Linked DNA regions of Homo sapiens: regions 2 and 3 are each linked to region 1. The links come from fine-mapping of genetic effects on gene expression. A gene starts in region 1. Each other region holds a variant in brackets. All regions are shown on one strand. Distances are from middle to middle.

Region 1 (8,186 bases):
GAGCCCCCACTCCCGGACTCTCTCTCTTTCTTTCTTTCTTTCTTTCTTTCTTTCTTTCTTTCTTTCTTTCTTTCTTTCCTTCTTTCTTTCTTTCTTCCTTTCTTTCTTTCTCTCTCTCTTTCTTCCTTCCTTCCTTCCCTCCCTCCCTCCTTCCTTCCTTCCTCTTTCTTTCTTTCCTCCCTTCCTTTCCTTTCTTTCCTCCCTTCCTTTCCTTTCTTTCCTCCCTTCCTTTCCTTTCTTTCCTTTTTTTGAGACAGGGTCTCATTCTGTCGCCCAAGTAACGTGATCTCACCTCACTGCAACCTCCACCTCCCAGGTTCAAGTGATTCTCCTACCTTAGCCTCCTAAGTAGCTGGGATTACAGGCATGTGCCACCACACCTGGCTAATTTTTGTACTTTTAGTAGAGGTGGGGTTTCACTACGTAGGGCAGACTTGGAGCAATTTTTCATATGAATATATGCTATTTCTATTCTCTCTTTTGTAAATTGCCTATTCTTCTTTTTGGCCATTTTTTTCTATCGAGTTATGTGTCTCTTTCTCATTGATTTCTAACAGTTTTTACATATTCTGGATACTGAACCTTTGTTGGCTATGTGTGTTGCCCATACTTTCTCCTGGTCTATGGTTTAACTTTTTACCTTTTAGGGTGTGTTTTAGCTTTCTTTTATACTTCGTGCTTTTATATCTCATTAAGAAACTTCTTTCTTTCTTTCTTTCTTTTTTTTTGGAGATGGAGTCTTGCTCTGTCACCCAGGCTGGAGTGCAGTGGCACGATCTCGGCTCACTGCAACCCCTGCCTCCCAGGTTCAAACAATTCTCCTGCCTCAGCCTCCCGAGTAGCTGGGACTACAAGCACACGCCACCACGCCTGGCTAATTTTTTGAATTTTAGCAGAGACGAGGTTTCACTGTGTTGCCCAGGCTGGTCTCAAACTCCTGAACTCAGGCAATCCACCTGTCTCAGCCTTCCAAAGTGCTAGTGAGCCACCGCGCCCAGCCTTCATTAAGAAATTTCTACCATGAATTCACAAAGGCATTTTCTAATATTTTATTCTTCAAGGTTTTAAGTTTTGCCTTTTCACATTTATGTCTATAATCCTCTTGGACTTACGTTTTCCTTTATGGTATGAAATAGAGATCTTTTTTTATCACATACATAATCAATTGTCCTTACCCCATTCATTGAAAAAATAATCTTTTCCCCACTAGCAGTAAGATAACACATACCAAATTTATATATATATACACACACACAGAGACACAAACATGGTATGTGTGTATATTGGTTGCCTATTAATGCACAACAACTTATTCCAAAACTTAGCAGCTGAAAACAATAAACATTTATTATCTCACAGTTTCTGTGGTTTAAGAATCTGGGAATGGTCCAGCTAGGTAGTTCTGGATCAGGGTCTCTCACAAGACAGTGACTAAGAGGTTGGCCAAAGCAGCAGTCATTTTGAAGCTCTACTGAAAAAGGACCCACTTGCAATTTTACTGTGTAGCTGATGGCAGGTGTCTGGCCTTCACTGGCTGTTGACCAGAGACATTGGTTCCTTGCCACATGCATCTCTCCTTAGAGTTGCTCACAACGTGACAACTTGCTTACCCTCCAAGTGAGAGATCAAAGAAAGTGACAGAGCTCCCAAGATAAGAATCACAACATTTCATTCTCTAATCTCAGAAATGACATGAAGTGACACTTTATCATGTCTATCATGCTCTTTGTATCAGAAGTGAGCCACCAAATCCAGCCCATACTCAAGGTTAGGGAAGCAGACAAGACTGTGAAGACCCGGAGGTGGGGATCATTGGGGTTATCTTAGAGTGGTCTACTACAGTTTCCATTTGTTGATCTATGCCAGCCTCCCTACCATACTGTCTTTTTTTTTTTTTTCATCCTGTCTTAATTACTGTAGCTTGTACAAAGTCTTGTTATCCGGTAGAGAATGTTCCCCTACTTAATTATTATTCAGTATATCTTTCCTATTTGGGGCCCTAAAAATAGAATGTAGAATCTGCTTGTTCATTTTAATTGAAAACCCCTGGGCCAGGCACAGTGGTTCATACCTGTAATCACACTTTGGGGAGGCCAAAGTGCGAGGATCACTTGAGCTCAGGAGTTCAAGACCAGCCTGGGCAACATAGTGAGATGCTGTCTCTACAAAAACTAAAATAAAATAAATTATCTGGTTTTGGTGGTGCATGCCTATAGTCTTAGCTATTTGTGAGGCTGAGGTGGGTGGGTGGGTGGATTGCTGGAGCCTGAGAGGTTGAGGCTGCAGTGAGCTGAGACAGCACCACTGCACTCCACACTGGGCAACAGAGTGAGACCCTATCTTGAAAGAAAGAAAGAAGAAAGAAAAGAAAGAAAGAAGAAAGAAAGAAAGAAATAAAGAAAGAAACAAATAAAGAAAGAAGAAAGAAAGAAAGAAAGAAAGAAAGAAAGAAAGAAAGAAAGAAAGAAAGAAAGAAAGAAAGGACTCTGTTGGGATTTTTATTGGAATTTCATTACATGAACAGATTAATTAGTAAATGAATTGATATTTTATGATATTGAGTCTTCCTATTCATTTACATGCTTTATATCTCACATAGTCTGAGAAGCTCACCAGAAAGATTAGTGCAAAAGGGCTGGGAACAGTGGCTCATGCCTGTAATCCCAGCACTTTGGGAGGCCGAGGTGGGCGGATCACCTGAGGTCAGGAGTTTGAGACCAGCCTGGCCAACATGGTGAAACCGTGTCTCTACTAAAAATACAAAAATTAGCCAGCATGGTGGCAGGTGCCTGTAATCCCAGCTACTTGGGAGGCTCAGGCAGGAGAATCGCTTGAACCCAGGAGGTGGAGGTTGCAGTGAGCCAAGATCACACCACTGCATTCCAGCCTGGGCGACAGAGGAAGACTCCATCTAAAAAAGAAAATTAATGCAAAAGAAGACAATTTGGGGGTCTTTTCAATAATTCAGTGGTAACACACAGTATATGGAGAGTTTGTGTATTGCTCCAATTCCCGAGTTTAAAAGGTTTAAGGTCTAGTTCCATATAGAAGTCCTGCAGTTCTAATAGACTGTGTTTTGATGAAATATCCTCAGTAAGTTAGTATGAGGTATGCACAACATTTCTGCTGAAATCCTTATCCTGCCTATCATTTTGCAGTGGACATCCATGGTTCAGTTTGCCTGGCAATCCTCCCTTCTCATAAGAACATCATCGCTCTTCTTTTAGGGAACTAACAGATCCTCCCCAAACTCCAATCAGGTGGTCCTAATCCAGGTTGCCAATCGCAGTGCTTCAATCACAGGAGTAAGCACAGGTCCTAGGCCAGGCCAATCACAGCTCCTTCTTGGATTTTCCAATTTGATAAAATCCAGGCTGGCTGGATAAAATCCAGAGGGAGAGTTTACTCCCACTCCTAGTGAGAGAACAGCTGCCAAATTTCTAGTCTTATGGAGCTGGTGTCTGACAAACTGAAGCTGCGATGCAGAAAAAAGCTGAGATGAGAGACGGGGACATCTTGGTGGTGGCCAGGTGGCTAGTGCCATATACATCCCTGCCCAACCTCATTTTGGTTAGGTGAGCACCAGTCATTCCCATTTATTCTTTTAACAACAGGAAGTATTTAATGAGCATCTACTATTATGAGCCAATCATTGAAGACACAGTGATGACTAAGCCTTCCAGTGAACACAAAATATATATTAATGTAAAAAGTACTGCAAGTTATGGACATTTGGAACCTAAGTAGGCAAACCATGACTTAAATCTCATTTAGGCTGGGCACAGTGGCTACACCTGTAATCCCAGCACTTTGGGAGGCTGAGGCGGGAGGGTCACTTCAGCCCAGGAGTTGAGACCAGCCTGGGCAACATGGTGAAACCCCCATCTCAAAAAAATACAAAAATTAACTGGTCTTGGTTTTGCAGCCTGTAGTCTCAGCTAATCGGGAGGCTGAGGCCAGAGGACAGCTAGAGCCCCGGAAGTCGAGGCAGCAGTGACTGCAGTAAGCTGAGAGCACACCACTGCACTCCAGCCTGGGCGACAGAGCGAGACACTGTTAAAAAAATTAAAAAAAAAAAAAAAAGAAAGAAAGAAAGAAAAGAAAAAAGAAAAAGGAAAAGAAAACTTATTTAATTCTCAACAAATCCTGTTAGGAAGCTCAGAGAGGGTCAGTAATTATTGCAAGTTTCTAGCGCTAATATATAGCGGAACCAAGACTTGAACATAGGTTTTCGACTCAACAATTGTTTTAATTACTCTGCGCTGCGTAAACTGAGAAACCTCTGAATCCTTACAATTTTAAAAGAACAACTTACAGTTTTCAGTTTCCATCAGATTCCAATTTTCTACCAAATTGCAGCCCTGAGGTATGAATGGTTACCAAACTTTAGTTAAACAAACAAAATTAGCTCATTAAGTAACAGAGAAACCACTCTGCCCAGCCTGCATTTTTTTTTTTTTTTTTGTATGAGTTTGCCTCCTTTATGCGCAAGGCTCCTTGGGAGTTGTAGTCTGAGGCATAGTCCTGTGGGTGGAGGCGCTGACTCACTGGGACCCAATCAGCAGAGAGTCAACTTGCTCTCCGCGCAGCGATTGGCTGGAAGTCAGCGGTCTCCCGCCCGCGGCGCCATCGCGCCATTCCTAGTTAAGGCGGCACAGGGCCGAGGCGTAGTGTGGGTGACTCCTCCGTTCCTTGGGTCCCGTCGTCTGTGATACTGCAGCGCAGCCATGGCAGAACCGCAGCCCCCGTCCGGCGGCCTCACGGACGAGGCCGCCCTCAGTTGCTGCTCCGACGCGGACCCCAGTACCAAGGTGGGCACAGGACCGAAGGGAACGGCTCCCCCAGCTCCGCTGGGCCGGGACCGGGCCGCATTCTATCCAACCCCATCCCGCCGCCGCTGCAGGTCCGCCGGCCTCGGGCGGACGGGAGTGTGATGGGAAGAGGGATAATGGTGTTTGATGGGGCGATCGTGGGGCCCGCGAAGTGTGGAGGGGATCTGTTGCCTCAGCTAGTTTCAAAGACTGCGACCCTGTTTTGAATTGGCTTGTTTATGTTGCGACGGTGGCTGGAAGCCAGGCCAACCCAGGGTCAGCTTTCCCAAATCAGTCGCCAAGGCCCACGAGAACAGTAGTTTCAGAACTCCCAGAAATAGGTTCAAAGATGCCTGTCCTGTACCAGTCCTGCCCAGCCTCGTTTTTCCTTACCACCCTGACTGCAGTCTTAACTCCTGCAAACTAATTTGATCGCTCTAAGTTTAACCGCGCCCAGAATTTCACTTTTGCTTGCTTGGCCTTTGCTGTGGGTCACAACAGCCCTTCTTGCCTTCCTCATCTTCGTGGGGCCCAGGAGAGATTACAGAATCATAGAGTTTGGATCTGAAAGGAATCTTAGAAATTCCTTCTCTTACCCTCTCGTTTTACAGTAATGACCCAGTAAGAGAAATGACCTGTTGCATACAAAGGCTTTCACTTACCGAACATGTCTTTACTGGGTAAGAATCAGTGTAACTCACTCAGGTGTGGTGTTTCGGTTGCCTTGTTAAGATCAGACACAGTTGGCGGGCGCGGTGGCTCACGCCTGTAATCCCAGCACTTTGGGAGGCCAAGGCGGGCGGATCACGAGGTCAAGAGGTAGAGACCATCCTAACACGGTGAAACCCCGTCTCTACTAAAAATACAAAAAAATGAGCTGGGCGTGGTGGCGGGTGCCTGTAGTCCCAGCTACTCGGGAGGCTGAGGCAGGAGAATGGCATGAACCCGGGAGGCGGAGCTTGCAGTGAGCTGAGATCGTGCCACTGCACTCCAGCCTGGGCGACAGAGTGAGACTCTGTCTAAAAAAAAAAAAAAAAAAAAATTCAGGCACAGTAACCGCTGTTTATTCCAGTGAAGTCATCAGTGTCTGTAAACACCTTTGTATTTATTTATTTGACTACATCATTTGTAAATTCCTTGAAGATTGAATATGTGCTTCGTGCAGACCTTTAAAAGGGGTAGATAAGTGGTCCATGACTCTGGTCCCTGCTTGTTCTTTACCTTCAGGGCAAAGAGTCAGACACATCTCATTGCTAAAACTTTTGACTAGCACCTGGTACTTGGCTTAGGAAAAATGTTAGTCATTGCAAAATTAAGGGGGAAGGTAAAAAAATTCCGTCATGCCCATCTCACTTGTATATCCCTTAATATTAATACCTGGTTTTTTCATATAATGTAAATTGAGTCACTCAGTGTAAAGTATTTTCCCAGATAACTAGGGGTTTTATGTAATGGGGTTTTCAAATAAAAAGGATTCCAGGGATATCTTTATAAAATATACTAAGTAAATGTCCTTGCAGCTTAATTTACATTCCACAGTATCTAAATTTCTCTTGATGATTCGGAGTAATTAATTTTGAGATCAGTAATTTTTGGCCATGGGAGACATAAAATGGAATACATAATAATAGCTGGTATATATTGAGTGTGCCAGGCCCTGGCTTGGTATTTTAAGTACATTGTTTAATTTAATCCTAACAACAACCCTATGAAGAAGGCATAATTATGATCTTCATTTTACAAATAAGGACACTCAGGCACATAGAGGTGTTGAGTGATTTGCCCAGGGAGGACCCCACACTTCCAACCTCCACCCTGTTCTGCTTCTGGGGTGCTGACTCCAGCAGTAATTTTGGAATTTGCCATAAAGGAAAATAAAAAACCTCAATGAAGGCTGGGTGCAGTGGCTCATGCCTGTAATCCCAGCACTTTGGGAGAGCGAGGTGGGCAGATCACCTGAGGTTAGCAGTTCGAGACCAGCCTGGCCAACATGGCAAAACTCTGCTCTACTAAAAATACAAAAATTAGCTGGGCATGGTGGCGGGCACCTGTAATCCCAGCTACTTGGGAGGCTGAGGCAGGAAAATCACTTGAACCCATGAGGTGGAGGTTGCAGGGAGCCGAGATCATGCCACTGCATTCCAGCTTGGGTGACAGAGTGAGACTTTGTCCAAAAAAAAAAAAAAACCCTCAATGAATTAAATTCAGTTTGATCACTTGATACATTTATGCTATATGTAAAGAAGATGGTAAGTACTTTGGGGATACTGGGATAAACAAGATGAGGTTCCCTCCCTTCACCAACTTATATCAACTCTAATATACAATGGACCTGGGGTTAGTGTGCTATTGAAATATAAATCACCCTGAGAGCACCCTGGGAGGTAGAGGTTTTTAAAGGTAGCATTAGTGGAATGGGGTATGCACAGGGTATTTGGAGCCTGAAGACCTGCATTTGAATCCCCACTTCTGTTGTTGGCTGCAGTGACCTTGCCAGGGCACTTGGGCTCAGTTTGTAGAAGGAGCATAAAGATATCTCAGAGAGCTGCTATGAGGATAAAATGACATGTATTATGTTCTCTAAACTATGAAGAGTGATACAATTCAAGGTTGTATTTCAGCTGTGGGGATCAGGGCACACATCAAAAAGATGGTGGTGATGGGCCTATGCCTTGATAGATTGGGTAGGATTCCAGCAGAGTACATGGGAAGGCATTCTGATGAAGGAAACATCTTAGCAAAAATGTGTTTTGATACGGGGGGAACCCACCCCAATATTTCAACGTAGGTTCTTTCTATTTTCCATAAGTATTGGCCAGCTGAGAAATAAAGAGTACAAAGAGAGGAATTTTACAGCTGGGCTGCCGGGGGGTGACATCACATATCAGTAGGACTGTGATGCCCACCTGAGTCTTAGACCAGCAAGTTTTTATTAAGGGTTTCAAAAGGGGAGGGGGTGTAAGAACAGGGAGTAGGTACAAAGATCACATGCTTCAAAGGGCAAAAAGCAGAACTACTAATAAGGGTCTAACAAAGATCACAAGGCAAAGGGCAAAAGCAGAACTACTGATAAGGGTCCAACAAAGATCACAAGGCAAAGGGCAAAAGCAGAACTACTGATAAGGGTCTATGTTCAGCAGTGCACGTATTGTCTTGATAAACATCTTAAACAACAGAAAACAGGGTTCGAGAGCAGAGAAGCGGTCTGACCACAAATTTACTAGGGTGAAGTTTTTTCCCCACCCTAGTAAGCCTGAGGGTACTGCAGGAGACGAGGGCGTATCTCAGTCCTTATCTCAACCTCATAAGACAGACATTCCCAGAGCGGGCGTTTATAGACCTCCCCCCAGGAATGCGTTCCTTTCCCAGGGTATT
Region 2 (8,186 bases), 24 kb after region 1:
GTTCTTGGGCAAATGAGATGTGTTTTTTTTAGAGACAGGCTCTCTGAAGCCTCTAACTTCTAGGTAGTCTTCCTGCCTCAGCCTCCTGAGCACCTTGGACTACACATGTGTGCCACCACACCCAGCTAGTTTTTGTTTGTTTGTTTTTGGTAGAGGCATAGAGGCAAGGTCTCACTATGTTGCCCAGGCTGGTCTCAAACTCCTGGCCTCAAGTGATCCGCCCGCCTCGGCCTCCCAGACTGCTGGGATTATAAGCATGAGCCACCACGCCTGGCCCATTTGTCTTTTATTTTTATTTATTTATTTATTTATTTTTTGAGACAGAGTCTTGCTCTGTTGCCCAGGCTGGAGTGCAGTGGCGCGATCTCGGCTCACTGCAAGCTCTGCCTCCCGGATTCACTCCATTCTCCTGCCTCAGCCTCCCAAGTAGCTGGGACTACAGGCGCCCGCCACTACGCCCAGCTAATTTTTTGTATTTTTTGTAGAGACGGGGTTTCACCATGTTAGCCAGGATGGTCTCGATCTCCTGACCTCGTGATCTGTCTGCCTCGGCCGCCCAAAGTGCTGGGATTACAGGCGTGACCCACCACGCCCGGCCTCCATTTGTCTTTTAGATAAGAGAATATAAGACCCTGAAATTGTAAGATATTTGCCTGTTTGTCTCTAACTAATTTTTAGGTACTATAATTAGTCTTTCAGCATCCAAAATTTTGTTCTTTTATTATTTTGCTACATTTTGGATCCAGAAATGTGATATCATGTGTTCCTTTAAAAATTCTTCAAACCATTTTGTAATAATTAACATTCAAATTTGGTATTTTTATAACTTGAGCACTTAAAAATGTAGGCAATTTCTTTACATTGTTTATCTGCATACTTTAAAAGAGATTGATTTCAGAGTGTGTGATTTCGTGTGTCCCTTGATTCAAAATAAAGCTTTGGAATCAGGCAGGCTTAGATATGAGTCTGTGACTCTAAACAAGTAAGTGGCAGTTTCATCAATAGAATGGAGATGTTCACACCTAGCCCATGGAGCTGTTTTAAGGGTTTAAATGAAATATAAAGTACTTAGCACAATAAATGAGCATTATTATTATTCTTATTATTGTTCTTGTCCAGTACCTGTATTTACTGTCTCTTTAGTCTCGTTAAAATCATACTTTGGCCATTTGTCCTTTCTATAGTTGAAAACTTAATATTTTTGTAGCAGGGGTTAGGCCAATTATGTAAAGTAGCATATAAACGTGGTAAGATTTCAAAGATGTTACTTGCTTTTCAGAATATCTATTCCCTAGGACATTGTAGCTATGTTTTCCTTCCTTTTGTAGCAATTGGGGCACTGAAGATGATGAGACCCAGAGTTACCACAATGGCAATTCAGACCCTCGAGGATTCGGTAAGTTTGCCTGTTTTTATGTGATATATGTAGATTTGTGTGATTTTGTATTATGTATATAATTATGATTTTAATAAACCTAAAACATTAATGTCCTAATTAAGTATGATCAATTTATTAGAGATATGATTATTTTTATTTTCCACAAATAATCTTATTTAGGAGTTGTTTAATTTCAGAGTCTCGATCTAAAATTACACTTACCATCTCACCATGATTTACTTTTAAGTCTCAGAATTAATTTCCAGTAGACTTTTTTTTTTAAAAAAGCTGTAGTTAATACTAATCCCAGTTTCTGCTAGCACATACACTTCTGCCTTGATCTCCAGTCTCTCAATCAAGATGACAGTATTGCAGGCTTCAGCTGGCTGCTATAGTCAATGCCAACCACAAACCTATTAAGTATTAGTAAATGATTACTGTTTTTTGGTGTCGATTATTCTTAACTGATTAGACTGTATATGAGCTGATATTGATTAATTTTAAATAATTTATAATTCAAGGCAACTAATTAACTACTTATACCCAGCCCATTAGATCTATATTTGTTCTTTAATGTATTATAGATTTTGAACCTACCTAAGTCTGTTCCCAAGTGCCTTATGTTTTGAAATAAACAAGTTTTGGAATCTACTTGTGGTACTTGGACACCCTGTTATAATTATTTCTTCCTTCTCTCTGCTTTTTTCGGGGGGTATCACGTAAGGTCATATTGGAATTGCTGTTCCTGATGTATACAGTGCTTGTAAAAGGTTTGAAGAACTGGGAGTCAAATTTGTGAAGAAACCTGATGATGGTGAGTCTACTACTTACTGTGTTCAGGCCTGTCTTTAGTTGATATTTACTAACCACCTACAGAGGCCACTGTTGTAGTAAAACCCTTTTGGCTACAAGTAACAGAAGTCTCCACTTCAACCAGAGTTTTAAAAAAGAGAAATGATTGGAAGAATATCTGGGTATTTTAGGGAACTGAAAGACAGCAACTAGGGTGGCTTTCCAAGGCACTAGACACAGGACCTGGACAGCCATCAAAACCCTACGCTTCCTCTCCCACTGCCCGACCCCACCACTTTCTTTCATTGGCCACCAGCTTTCACTATTTCAGTGTATATCTTTCCGCCCAAAAATAAGTTCCTTAAAGTCCATTTTATCTGATGCTCATATAATGACACCAGCTCTCTTTAGTTTATAATCACATGGTATTTCTTTTTCATCTTTTATAACCTTTGTATGTCCTTAAGTTTTAGGTAGGTTTTTTGAAATAGCCTACGTATGGATTTTGCTGGGTTTACATGTATTGTTATTATTTTACTTAGATCTCTTTCTGAACTATTTCAAATTAAAATTGAAATATTAAATATTTCAGAGTCTCAATCTAAACATTTGAAATATTTCACTGTTTAATTTCAATCCTTTTTTAAAAAAATTAAAATACTTAATATCCAGTGCTGGGCGTGGTGGCTCACACCTGTCATCCCAACACTTTGGGAGGCCAAGGCGGGCGGATCACGAGGTCAGGAGATCCAGACCATCTGGGCTAACATGGTGAAACCCTGTCTCTACCAAAAATAGAAAAAATTAGCCAGGCATGGTGGTGGGCGCCTATAGTCCGCCTACTCAGGAGGCTGAGGCAGGAGAATTGCTTGAACCTGGGAGGTGGAGGTTGCAGTGAGCCAAGATCGCACCACTGCACTCCAGCCTGGGCGACAGAGTGAGACTCCGTCACAAAAATATATATATATTTAATATCCAAATCTTCTCCCCAATAAGAAAGGAATTTGCTTCACTCTGTCCTCATTGTGTCACTATTACCTAGAGTGGGATAGTATTGATTTTATTTTTTAAAGATAATAATAAATATATCACGGTGTTTGATCACTTTTTCTTCATATATCTCTTGTAGTGTCTCCTTTGAGACAGGATCTCACTCTCATCCAGGCTGGGGTGCTGCAATGGCACTGTCATAGCTCACTATAGCCTTGAAACTCCTGGGCTCAAACAATCCTCTGCCTCAGCCTCCTCCTAAGTAGCTAGGACCACAGGCACATGCCACCACACCCAGCTAATTGTTTTATTTTTTTGTAGAGATGAGTTCCTGCTATGTTGCCCAGGTTTGTCTCAAACTCCTGAGCTCAAGCGATTCTTTCACCTTGGCCTCCCAAAGCACTGGGATTACAGGCGTGAGCCACTATGCCCAGCCTTTTTAGCATCTTTTGGATTTTTCTGTTCTTTTATTTAAATACCTCAACCAAAATGGTCTTTAAAGGGGTTTTGTTTTTGTTTTTTGAGACGGAGTTTCGCTCTTGTTGCCCAGGTTGGAGTGCAATGGCACGGTCTTGGCTCACCGCAACCTCTGCCTCCTGGGTTCAAGTGATTCTCTTGCCTCAGCCTCCCGAGTAGCTGGGATTACAGGCATGCACCACCGTGCCTGGCTAATTTTGTATTTTTAGTAGAGACGGGGTTTCTCCATGTTGGTCAGGCTGGTCTCAAAATCCCAACCTCAGGTGATCCGCCTGCCTCAGCCTCCCAAAGTGCTGGGATTACAGCTATGAGCCACCGCACCCAGCCCTTTAAAGGGTTTTTAAGGCAAAACTTTTGAGATTCTGTGTAACTGAGGATGATGCCTTTATGTCTGAAGGACAGTTTTATGGAAAAGCCTAGGTTTAATTTCCTTCAGTCTTGAAAATACTCTTCTATTTTCTTTTTGCATATGATGTTGCTGTTGAAAAATCTGTCAATTCATGTTCCTTTGTATATTCTTCTGTTTTATTCTAGAAGCTTTTTATATTATTTCTTTGTCACTGCCTGCATTCTGGGAGATTTCCTCAAACTGGAATACCAATTAGCTAATTTTCTCCCAAATGTATCTGTTCTGATATTTAATTCATCTATTTTGTTCTTAAACACCTGTTATAATTTTGATCTCTAATTTTCGCTTAGTTTGCTTAATATGTTCTTGTTCTTTTTTTCATATTGGTAATATTTCATATTGTTTATTACTTTTTTTTTTTTTTGAGACAGAGTCTTGCTCTGTTGCCCAGGCTAGAGTGCAGTGGTGTGATCATAGCTCACTGCAACCTCAAACTCCTGGGATCAAACAATAATCCACCTCAGCCTCCTGAGTAGCTGGGACTACAGGCAAATGCCACCATGTATGGCTAATTTTTTATTTTTTGTAGAGACAGGGTCTTACTATGTATCTCAGGCTGGTCTCAAACTCCTGGCCTCAAGTGATCCTTCTGCCTCAGCCTCCCAAAGTATTGGGATTACAGATGTGAACCACCACACCC[G/A]GCCGGTCATTACTTTTACATGTCTAAATAGTCCTTGGGTCTGGGCATGGTGGCTCATGCCTGTAATTGCAGCACTTTGGGAGGCCGAGGCAGAGGATTGGGAGGTTCGGGAGGATCACTTGAGGCCAGCAGTTCAAGGCTGCAGTGAGCTATGATTGTGCCATTGCATTCCAGCCTGGGTGACATAGGAAGACCTTGTTTCTACAAAAAGGTTTTTTTTTAAATTATCTGGGCATGGTGGCACATGCCTGTAGTCTGTATGCCTAGCTACTCGGGAGGCTGAGGTGGGAGGATTGCTTGGGCCCAGGAGTTGGAGGCTGCAGTGAGCTATGATCCACTGTACTTCATTTCAGTATAAACGACAGAGCAAGACCCTGTCTCCAGAAAAAAAACAAAAATAGCTCTTGGTCCATTATTCTAATATTTCTTCTGTTTGAATCTACAGTCCATTGCTTTGGGGGTGTTTTATGGTTATGTTTCTCAAATTATTATTTTTTGCCTCTGAGCTTTTTTCCCCTGCAACTGTTCGCTATTCTAACACATCAAGCAGTGTGAATAGGAGAATGGCCAGATCCCTGTCCTTAACAACCCACATGATCTCAGGACAATGGGCTGGATAAGCCTAGGCCAGAGATTCCTAGGCACCTAGAAATGAGACTTAAATTTATTTCACCTTCCACAAAACACCTCTTCAGGTTGGATCTTCCCACTTCATCCCTCAGGGAAGAGTATTAGTAGGAGACACTTCCGATAGTGTTATTCCCTAGCCCTGGGCGTGGAGAGAGGGCTGGGGAGATCATTCGGCCCTACCAGTTTTTCTCAGTTTCTCACAAGCACAAGGCTCCTGCACTGCCCTTGTTTACTGGTAAGGACATCTGAACAAGCGAGAGGGCAGGTGCCGATGCACACAGCAGTGAGGGAGGAGCAAGAGCAAAACTCTGTTCTCTCGCAGCCATTATGCACTGCCTTCTGGTCCAGGCCAGAACTACCACCTCCCACACAGCCCAAGTTAAAACAGTCACCCGGCCCCATCCTCACCCATTCTCCCCAGCTGTCACCAGCCGGGTTTCTTTCTTTCTTTCCTTTTCTTTTCTTTTCTTTTCTTTTCCTTTTCTTTTCCTTCCTTCCTTCCTTCCTCTCTCTCCCTCCCTCCTTCCTTCCTTCTCTCTTTCTCTCTTTCTCTTTCTCTTTCTCTTTCTCTCTTTCTTTCTTTTTCCTGCATTTTCCATCTATGTTCCTCTAGGATTGATCTTGGAGAAAGGAGGCAGAGATAAGAGTCAAACCAATTCAACATAATGGTCCCCAAATAAATTTCTGAGGTCATATTTTTCCATTTAAGCAAACAGCTCTGACATACTAGACTCTCAATCTCAGTTTTGAATTCCTGGGAGAAAGACTCTCGCAGAGCTTGGGTTGCCTAGGATAGTATTTAAAAGGGTTTGTATGACCCAAGCATCTGGGTCTTTTGGTTGTGGGGGTAAGCCATGCTACCAGCTCCCTTCAGCACCTCCCTATTTTCTTTTTCTTCTTTAAAATAAGACAATTTCTGTAACTACTGAACTGGTAGTGTGGTATCATGAAGGTGAGGCAAATGCCTGATACCTAAAAGATGCAGCCAGTCCCACAGTTTATTTCAGGAGGGCTGGTATTTGCAATGTGTGCAAGATAACATTTTAGTCATTATGAAAAGTATGACTTTTCATACTTTTCTGACAATAAGAATTTTTAAAATTTAAAACTGTAAACAAAATAATGTACTTCATTAAAATGCAAAGTAAATCTTTAATTAATAAAAGTTTTTAAGGCCAGGTGCAGTGGTTTGTGCTTGTAATCCCACCACTTTGGGAGGCAAGGCAGGAGGATTGCTTGAGGCCAGGAGTTTGATAGCAGCCTGGGCAGTACATTGAGATCCCGCCTCTACAAAATCAAAAAATTAGCCAGGCAAGGTGGTGCGTGCCTGTCGCCCCAGCTACTTGGCAGGCTGAGCTCAGGAGGTCAAGCCTGCCTTGGGCCATGATCATCCCATGCACTCCAGCCTGACATTCAGAGCAAGACCTTGTCTCAAAGAAAGAAAAACATTTTTATGGTGTTTTCTTTTTTAGTCTTTTCAATAATGAAAATTTTCATTTTACAGGTAAAATGAAAGGCCTGGCATTTATTCAAGATCCTGATGGCTACTGGATTGAAATTTTGAATCCTAACAAAATGGCAACCTTAATGTAGTGCTGTGAGAATTCTCCTTTGAGATTTCAGAAGAAAGGAAACAATGTGATTCAAGATATTTACATACCAGAAGCATCTAGGACTGATGGATCACTGTCCCGATTCAAATTATTCTTCAGTCCATTTCCCCTTCCTATTTCAGCTGTTCCTTTTCACCTAACTGTTCAGTCATTCTGGTTTTCAAGCAGTGCTTTATCTCATGTCCTTGAATATAGTTGTGTAACTTTATTTTTTAGGTAATAATTAGAACAGTTCCCTTCAGAGGCTGCATTTGCCTTCTTCTGCCACCTAAATATTACTTCCCTTCAAATCTGCCTTTGAATCATCATTTTTAAAAAAAAATTAACATGTTTTTGTTGTAGTTATCTTCTGGGGTTTCAATTCCTCAGAAACAACTTTTTTCACAACGGAAAGGAAAGAACACTAGTGTTCTTTCAGTAAAGTACAAAGTGTTTATTTTACAAAAGAGTAGGTACTCTTGAGAGCAATTCAAATCATGCTGACAAGGATACTGATAGAAAAAGTGATTTCTTCTTATTATAAAGTACATTTAAAGTTCAAGGACTAACCTTATTTATTTGGGAAAGGGGAGGAGGAAGGAAATGATATGGTACCCAGACACTGGGCTAGGCTGCAACTTTATCTCATTTAATACTCCCAGCTGTCATGTGAGAAAGAAAGCAGGCTAGGCATGTGAAATCACTTTCATGGATTATTAATGGATTTAAGAGGGCATCAATCAGCTCAACTCAAGATTTCATAATCATTTTTAGTATTTAGATTGTGCCTCAAAGTTGTAGTACCTCACAATACCTCCACTGGTTTCCTGTTGTAAAAACCTTCAGTGAGTTTGACCATTGTGCTCTTGGCTCTTGGGCTGGAGTACCGTGGTGAGGGAGTAAACACTAGAAGTCTTTAGTACAAAACTGCTCTAGGGACACCTGGTGATTCCTACACAAGTGATGTTTATATTTCTCATAAAGAGTCTTCCCTATCCCAAGGTCTTCATGATGCCAGTAGCCATATATGATAAATTATGTTCAGTGATAACTTAGTTATCAGAAATCAGCTCAGTGGTCTTCCCCGCCATGATTCACATTTGATGAGTTTTTAAAAATCAAAGTGATTTTGAAAATCTCTAATGGCTCAGAAAATAAAAACATCCAGTTTGTGGATGACTATATTTAGATTTCTCTAGACTCTAGTGGAAGACCTTTGGAAAGGCCATGCCAACCGTGCTTGTACTGCTAGAAGCACTTTATGTTTCCTTTTTGGGT
Region 3 (8,186 bases), 760 kb after region 1:
CCCCATCTCCACAGGGTCAGAAGCTCCAGTGCTTGGGACCTTTCCAGACCTCACCCTATGTACCTCTTTATCTGGCTATTTATCTGTATCCTTTAAAATATCCTTCTTAGTAAACGTGTTTCTCTGAGTTCTGTGAACAGCCCCAACAAATTAATCGAACCCAAAGAGGGGGTTGTGGGAATCTCAACTTGATGTGTGTGTCAGAAGTTCCGGAAACCTGGGCTTGCAACTGGTGGGGAAAGGAGGGAGCAGTCTTGGGGAAGGAGCCCTCAACCTGTGGGATCTGGCACTACACCTCCAGGTAGATAGTGTCAGAATTGAACTGGAGGATACCTGGCTGGTGTCCACTGCTTGGTGGTGGGGAGAGACCCCCCCACACACATTTGGTCACAGGAGTTTTCTTTGCATAAATGACTGCTGTGGTGTGAGAGTAGAGGAAAAACACAGAGTTTTCCCCACACAATAAGAACTGAAATTAACAACAACCACATAACCCCATTAAAAAATGGGCAAAGGACATGAACAGACACTTCTCAAAAGACAAATATGTGGCCAACAAACATGAAAAAATGCTCAAAGTCAATAATCATTAGAGAAATGCAAATCAAAGCAACAATGAGATATCATCTCACACCAGTCAGAACATTATTAAAAAGTCAAAAAACAGCAGATGCTGGTGAGGGTGCAGAGAAAAGAGAATGCTTATACACTGCTGGTGGGAAAGTAAATTAGTACCGCCACTGAAGAAAGCAGTTTGGAGATTTCTCAAAGAACTACAATTTGACCCAGCAATCTATTACTGAGTTTGTATACCTAAAGGAATATAAATACCCAAAGGAGTGTAAATCATTCTATTATAAAGACACATGCACATATATGTTCATTGCAGCACTATTCATAATAGCAAAGACATGGAATCAACCTAAATGCCCAAGAATGATAGGCTGGATAAAGAAAATGTGGTACAGACAACACCACAGAATACTATGCAGCCATAAAAAAGAACAAGATCATGTCCTCTGCAGGAACATGGATGGAGCTGGAAGTCATCCTTAGCAAACACATACAGGAACAGAAAACGAAATACCACATGTTCTCACTTATAAGTGGAAGCTAAACATTAAGTACACATGGATACAAGGCAAATATAGATACGCAGGCCTACTTAGGGGTGGAGGATGGAAGGAGGGTGAGGATCAAAAAACTATTTATTGGGTACTATGCTTATCACCTGGGTGACTAATCTGTACGCCAAACCCCCATGACACATAATTTACCCATGTAACAAATGTGCCCATGTGCCCCCTAAGTCTAAAAACAAAAGTTGGAAAGAAAACAAAAAGAAAAAAACTATGCCAGGTGAACATTAACCAAAAGAAAACTAGCATGGCTAAATTAATCTCAAGGTAAATTTCACAACAAATAACATTATCTGCAATTAAAAAGATCATTTCATAATGATGAAGGGGTCAATTTATAAAGATGTAAAAATGCTAAATATTTATGTACCTAGTAAGACAGCTTCAAAACACATGAAGCTAAATATGATACAAATATAAGAAAAAACTGCTTTAATCCATGATTGTATTCAGATATTTCACTATCCCTCTCTGTTACTGACAGAACAAGTAAGCAAAAAATCAACAGACATGGAAACTTGAACACTGTCAACCAACCTGACCTAACTGACACTTGAAGAACACACTACTCAACAACAGCAGAATGCACTTTCTTTTCAAATATAAACAAAACATTTTCCAAGACGTATTTTGTCATAAAACAAGTCTCAATAAATAAATGAGGGTCATACAAAATGTTTCTTGAGCACAATGGAATAAAAATAGAAGTAACAGAAAGATCTCTGGAAAATCCTCCAGGAAGGGAAAAAAAGAAAGGAAATACTAAGCTAAATGCTCCAATGTCATAATATTTATATACCCATAAAAAAGTAAATACTGAAGATTTAACCAAAACTTCACTACAAATATGTTGGGGGGAATAGGAGAGGGTGGTATAAGAAAGCAAAGGCTTTATATATCACAACAAGGTAAAAAAAAAATGTGTACAACTGATAAATCAAAAAGTCAGCAATATATGTATATTAATCATAAATATGGAGAAGTATAAATTTAGATGAAACAGCAGACAGAATTCAGAGTCATTGTTTCCTCTTAATCACTGCATGTGGGGAAACTTGGAGTAGAAAGGGCAGGGCATTTTGTTACATGTAATATTTTGACTTTTCAAACTACATACATGTAGTACTTTAATAAAATACCTTTAAAGAGATTTCATCTATATCATCTAATTTTATTCCCAGGGAAGGAGGTATAGTAACCCCCAATTTGACAAATGAGGAAACTAATATTTCAGGTAAAGTAGCTTGTCCAAAATCTAAGCCACCACAACTTTTTAATTTAATCATATAAATAATATAAATTATGCCTGTTATGGCATCATCTACACAGATAAATATGAAAAGGAAAAAAATTAAATTGTTTTTAAATCTCAGTTTTATTTCTGGAAATATTTTTATTTTCTGCTCTCTACTATAGATGACTAGTTTACTGTCACAGAACAAGATGAAATATTCACACTTAACCTCCTGTTAACAGATTTTTAAAAGAAATTTGAACAAAGAAAGATTTTGGCAAGTGTAAAGAACAAAACTGTACTCAAAAGTAAACACTATTTTAATCATTATCTTTAACTGGGGTTAGGTGCACATAACATAAAATTTACCATCTTAACCGTTTTTAATCGTACAGTTCCAGTGGCATTAAGTACATTCACGTTGTTGTGCAACTACTGCCACTAACATCCATCTCCAGAGCTTTAACATCCATCTCCAGAGCTTTTTTTCATCTTCCCAAATTGACTTTCTTTATCCATTAAACAACTCTCCAGTTCCCCCACCCTCTAGCCCCTGGAAACCACCATTCTATTTGTCTCTATGAATATGACTACTGTAGGTACGTCACGTAAGCAGAATAAATAGTATTTGTTCTTTTTGTGACTGGCTTATTTCACTTAGCATAATGTTGTCAAGGTTCATTCACGCTATAGCAAAAACACTTGTTAAAAGCCAGTTTCCAAAACAGCATAAACATCAATTATTTGATAATGCTGTGAGAAATTAAGGCACTGGTGAATTCAAGGGAAATTAGTAAAAAAATTAATGCTTCCCTCTCCCCCAACCCTGATCAGGACACCAAAAAGGGGGAAAAAAATAGGTCACAATTTTAAACTATTGAGAAAGGGTATCCTGGTAACTTTACAGTGTGCATGAAGGAATGGGGGGAAAAATTGTAATTTTGTGTTTTGAAAAACCCAATTACTTTTCTAAGGTTGTTGCTCTTTTGAGCTGTGCGACAAAGGCCTATAGGGAAGGGCTTCTCTAAATGTAAACTAGGTCTGTGTTTTCCTTCTTAAGGGTGGAGCCATGCAAAAGACAAAAGCGCTAATAATGTCAGATGTTCACAAAACCTTGAGTCATGGTAAGTATCTTATAAATCAGAAGTGAAATAGCCTCCATTCAGTCACATAGAGATCAGGTAGGAAATACAAGACACTTGACCTTTACAGTGTACTTTGAAAAGGTTCCCTTGGTTGCAGTTTTTAAAAAACAGACTTGTATGCTTTTACATTCCCCATTATTCTCTCACTCTGAACCTCCACAATGAATACCCTGTATTTATGTCCATCTAAAATTCAGACAGAAGTCCTAGGCAGCCTTTCAATGGAGCCACTAAACAAACCACACCAACCCTTTAAGACACCAAAAACACCACTCTGATGTTAGGGTGGGGTTGTTTCTCTGAATTTTAATTTATAATGCAACTAGAATCACTGACCAAATTTTAACAAGAAGTGGTGACCAGCAGTGCCTCAGGTATCCAGGTGTCTGATAAGCACTCAAGCAAGAGCTGTGCTTTTCATAAACTCAGAGTATTGACACCAAAAAAGGAAAAAGTCTGCTAAAACAAAGTCAGGTATTTTATATGACAACTATATAAAACAGTGTTTTAGACAAGACATTCATTTTTGCTTTATAAAGATTAAACCATATGGTGTGTCCAAAAATAAATTACCACTGATAACTAAAATAAGACTATGTCGGCCGGGTGCCATGGCTCACACCTATAATCCTAACACTTTGGGAGGCCAAGGCAGGTGGATCACTGGAGTTCAGGAGTTCGAGACTAGACTAGCCAACATGGCAAAACCTCATCTCTACTAAAAATACAAAAATTAGCTGGGCATGGTGGTGCAGGGAGGCTGAAGCAGGAGAACTGTTTGAACCGGAGAGGCAGAGGTTGCAG[T/C]GAGCCAAGACTGCACCACTGCAATCCACCCTGGGAGACAGAGCGAGACTCTGTCTTGAAAAAAAGACTATGTCAATGATCTTCCAATGCAAAATTTCCCATTGTCCAAAATTATCTGCCTCCACGTGGTATTTTTCCAGAATACCATATAGTTTCCCCCAAGCCCTGAGACAGGAATAATACAGGGTGGTTGAAGGGGAAAAGAAAATTCCAGGCAGCAGTTTCACATGACTAGCAAAAAGGAAACTGTTGAAATACATACATAAGCTAGGAGCCAAGAAGACCCTGAAAAGCAGAGTGTGGGTTAAGCTAGCTAAGACGAAGTGGACCCAACATGGCACTGGATTTGACCTAGGTTTCACCTAGGACCTCATTATATGCTCATTAACATACTAAATCACACCCACCAATGCCAAGACAGTTCCGGGAGCACCCATACTGGTGTAAAAATGGGTGGCACTAAAGTTGAGAAATTTTCACCTTTTTCCAGAAATCTTCATGAATACTCCACCCCTTGATTAAAGAAACCCATACAGATAGAAGCCAAACCCTGTCTGGAGTATGCTCGCACTCCCCTTTCTTGAGCATGTACTTTTCATTTTGCAATAAATCTTAGTACATTTCACTATTTTCCAACTCATCCTTGAATTCCTACTGAAGACACTGTCAAGAGCCTGACCATTGATCAGAGTTGATGTCCCACTGGCATTTAGGGACCTCCCCCAGCCCACTGGTATCAGCCCAAAAGAAAAAATATTAAATACTTAGTATTGTCATTACTTAAGTTCTCAAATTGCTACCCAAGTTATATGAAGCACCTTTCTCCACGTGATATACGCTGTAGGTCAAAACACAAGACCTCAGTCATCACAAAAGAAAAACCGATTTAGTAGTTTTGCCTTTCCCATTCAATGAAGACAAATTTTGGCCTAAGGGAAGCATACACACAGTTTTTTCTCTTTTCTTTTTTTAGGCTCCTCCTCTTGTAGGGCCATGTAGGGATTTTGAGAAAAGAATTTTGTCTCTGTGATATTTTATAAACCCAGGCTACTTGATAGAGGGACACTATAAAAAAGATCCATTTCCACAGAGTATGTATCTTAGAACATGAAACACTTTATCATGGGTTTTTTAAAAATCTATAATAAAGATTTTCATCAAGTTTGGGGAAATTTCTTTAAGGTACTAATGATGCAGATAGTGTTTTTGGACGTTTTAGTTCTTCTTGTAATTGCTATATGGTATAAAATCTCATATAAAATCCAACTGTCATATTTAAATAAAAATTTTAATTAAAAATTATAATCAACACATCTAAATAACTGTATGCATGTGCATAAACCCACATACACACAAATACACAAAAATTTGACAACTGTATCAACTCTACAGAACAATGAATGTTTACCTGCAAGACTAACAGCACCTGAATTAAGAGATAGTAAACAGAAAAAGGCATACAATCCTAAAGCAGTATCTACAAATTAAAGGGTTGTTGCAACTTTGTTATAGATTTATTTCTAGTCTCATCTTCAAGATTACTAATATAGCATGTAACACTGGAAGGAGAAAGGAAACTGAGGTTGAAGTATGCAAATAAAAGATGAAATAATAAGCCACTTTACCCTCACCACTTCAGTTTACTTTGAAACTCATTAATTCAGTAGACATTTGGACTGAGTACCAGTGTTTTGGTAAGAAAAGGGCTCTAAAATTCTTTCCACTCAAATATTCTATGATCATCATTTACTAATATCACATGATTAATGGGATTCGCACTTCTAGAGTTCCTAAAAGCAAAACCAGTGTTTACAAATACTTATGATGCACACTGAGTAACAGGTATAGGAGAAATGAATAACCCAGCTTTCAGTTGCCATTGGAAGCCTGGGACCTGCATGAAAATAATTTTTGAGAAAGATTTCCTGACATTAATTTGTGCTTCAGGCATGGAAATTAACAGCTACTGGATCCTAAAACATATGAGTTAAGGAAAACACTGTCACTTTATGCAAAGCTGGAAAATACAGTGTTCTCTACAGATATCAAACATTTTTAAACAAAATTCAATCTCCTGGACTGTCAGTTTAGCTACAGGTTAAAACAGTGTTGAGGAGAAGATGGAAGCACATTTAAACTTTAATATCTTTACTCAGAAAACTGAACAATTTAAAGTACTAGCAATATGGAGGTTAATCTTCAAATCTGAAGTACAGGGCATTTAGTAATACTGTTACAATGATCGTCTCTTCAAACCAGCAGTAGGGCTTGCAAGACTTTCCCAGTACAATGTTAGAAATGCCTATGTTTAGTTTCACTTAGTCCAATTAACTGGCCTCCTCTACTACAGACATCATTTTTCTAGAAACCTTTTTTTTCAACATGATACTCCTACATACTTTTTAATTGAACTGTTCTACAGAAATGCATTCCTTTTGTTCTCTCTTGTTTGCATAGGTTAATACATGCTATAATGTTGTCTAAACCTGTCACCAAGTCTTTCTACGTCTAGCTTTCCCTTGGATGTCTTTATTTCAAAGTTTTTGATACAGTCCCACTTTTTCTTCAAAGTAAGTTTTATGTTTTCCTTATTCCAATGATGAATTACAGTTTATCTGCTATATCAGCTAAAAAGAGAACTCTATTTTTAGGGTAGATGCAAATACAATAACAGAAGTAACTGATGAAGTGTCTCTCTATGACGTGAATTAGTAAACTATTAGCCTATGGTCTATTCAGAAACATCTGTGCTATAAATATTTGGTGAAAGTGCAGCTAAACTTCCAAATAGCCTTAAGTCATTGATGGCTCAAAATTCAATTATCTGAAAATAATATTCCCACAAGATTGTAGAAGCTTACATTCACCTTCATAATTTTTAAGTATCTCTGGGGGAAGGAGTGTCACCACTAAATTGAAAACTTGGCTTGATATATTATAAAAATAAAAAGAGGCTGACATATCTATTGGTTTCATATACCCTCACCTTCCTAAACATGAACAAATTCAAAATTCAGCAGCAGCCATTGGTTCAATATTCATAAATTTACAGAATTTTGCTAACATGTCTCAAATGATCATGAAGGAAAAAAGTACATTTTTAATGACAAACTTTTAAATTTATTTAGTTACCTTAAGAAACTTGTAAAACCACATTTTATGGAGGTAAACTTTACCCTTCTTTTCAAAGAAAAAAAAATATATATATATGATCTTTTATAATGGCTCTTCTTTGTGAGTCAAAGGGTTAAAACCATCTCTTTTATTCCCAAATGAGTATCAGCACCATTCAGAGGTGCCATGTTTTATTTAAAACATACTCTTACTCAGTAACCACTTTGTTCTAATTGGCAAGGCAAAGCCAGGTCCCTAAAGCACACAGCCCATTACATTCAGTTTGGATTAAAAAACACAGGATGAAACAAACGGCATCGAAATGTACAAATTAACAGCTCAGGAGTATGGGACAGAGAGGTGGAATTAGATTGTAATATGGAACAAAACCCACAGGGAAGCTGGGGAACAAATCACTAGTGTCTCTATAAACTATACAAGGTTTCCAAATGAGCAAATACACAAAGCAAAGGACAGGCTTTTCCATAACTCAACCAAACTGATAAATATGGATACAACAAAACAGGAGTTTTTTTCCATACTATTATTATGCACACATGTATGAGAGAACGGGAGTACCAACTGGAAGGTTTAACAAATGAAATCTGCAGGTTGCACAGTCTAAATACGAAATTCATCTTTGCTTTCACACTGACAATGTGCAAACAGCCTTGCAATTAAATCACACTTCCAAACATTTTCAAAAAAATTCTTCTGAGAAGCTAAACACAGGAGACTAAATAGAAATGG

The links. PIP is the estimated chance that this variant, and not a neighbour inherited with it, causes the effect.
Region 2: its variant is fine-mapped to the expression of GLO1 in blood mononuclear cells (TOPMed, PIP 0.98).
Region 3: its variant is fine-mapped to the expression of GLO1 in testis (GTEx, PIP 0.99).

Annotation. Positions count from the first base shown.
Region 1 is chr6:38,699,596-38,707,781 of GRCh38, reverse strand. It overlaps GLO1 (glyoxalase I), which reads left to right and starts at 4,637. Exons shown (of 6, transcript NM_006708.3): 1 at 4,637-4,811. The coding sequence starts at 4,728. RefSeq lists enhancers at 4,361-4,520, 4,701-4,800, 4,821-4,870, 4,903-5,495.
Region 2 is chr6:38,676,018-38,684,203 of GRCh38, reverse strand. It overlaps GLO1 (glyoxalase I), which reads left to right. Exons shown (of 6, transcript NM_006708.3): 4 at 1,329-1,396; 5 at 2,103-2,192; 6 at 6,821-8,186. The coding sequence ends at 6,909. Among named protein-coding and RNA genes, the nearest start is that of GLO1, 23 kb to the left of the region's middle. RefSeq lists a silencer at 2,764-2,976. The variant G/A (reference allele first, on the strand shown) is at 4,687.
Region 3 is chr6:37,941,607-37,949,792 of GRCh38, reverse strand. The region is part of intron 2 of ZFAND3 (zinc finger AN1-type containing 3); the gene reads right to left. Among named protein-coding and RNA genes, the nearest start is that of ZFAND3, 130 kb to the right of the region's middle. The variant T/C (reference allele first, on the strand shown) is at 4,323.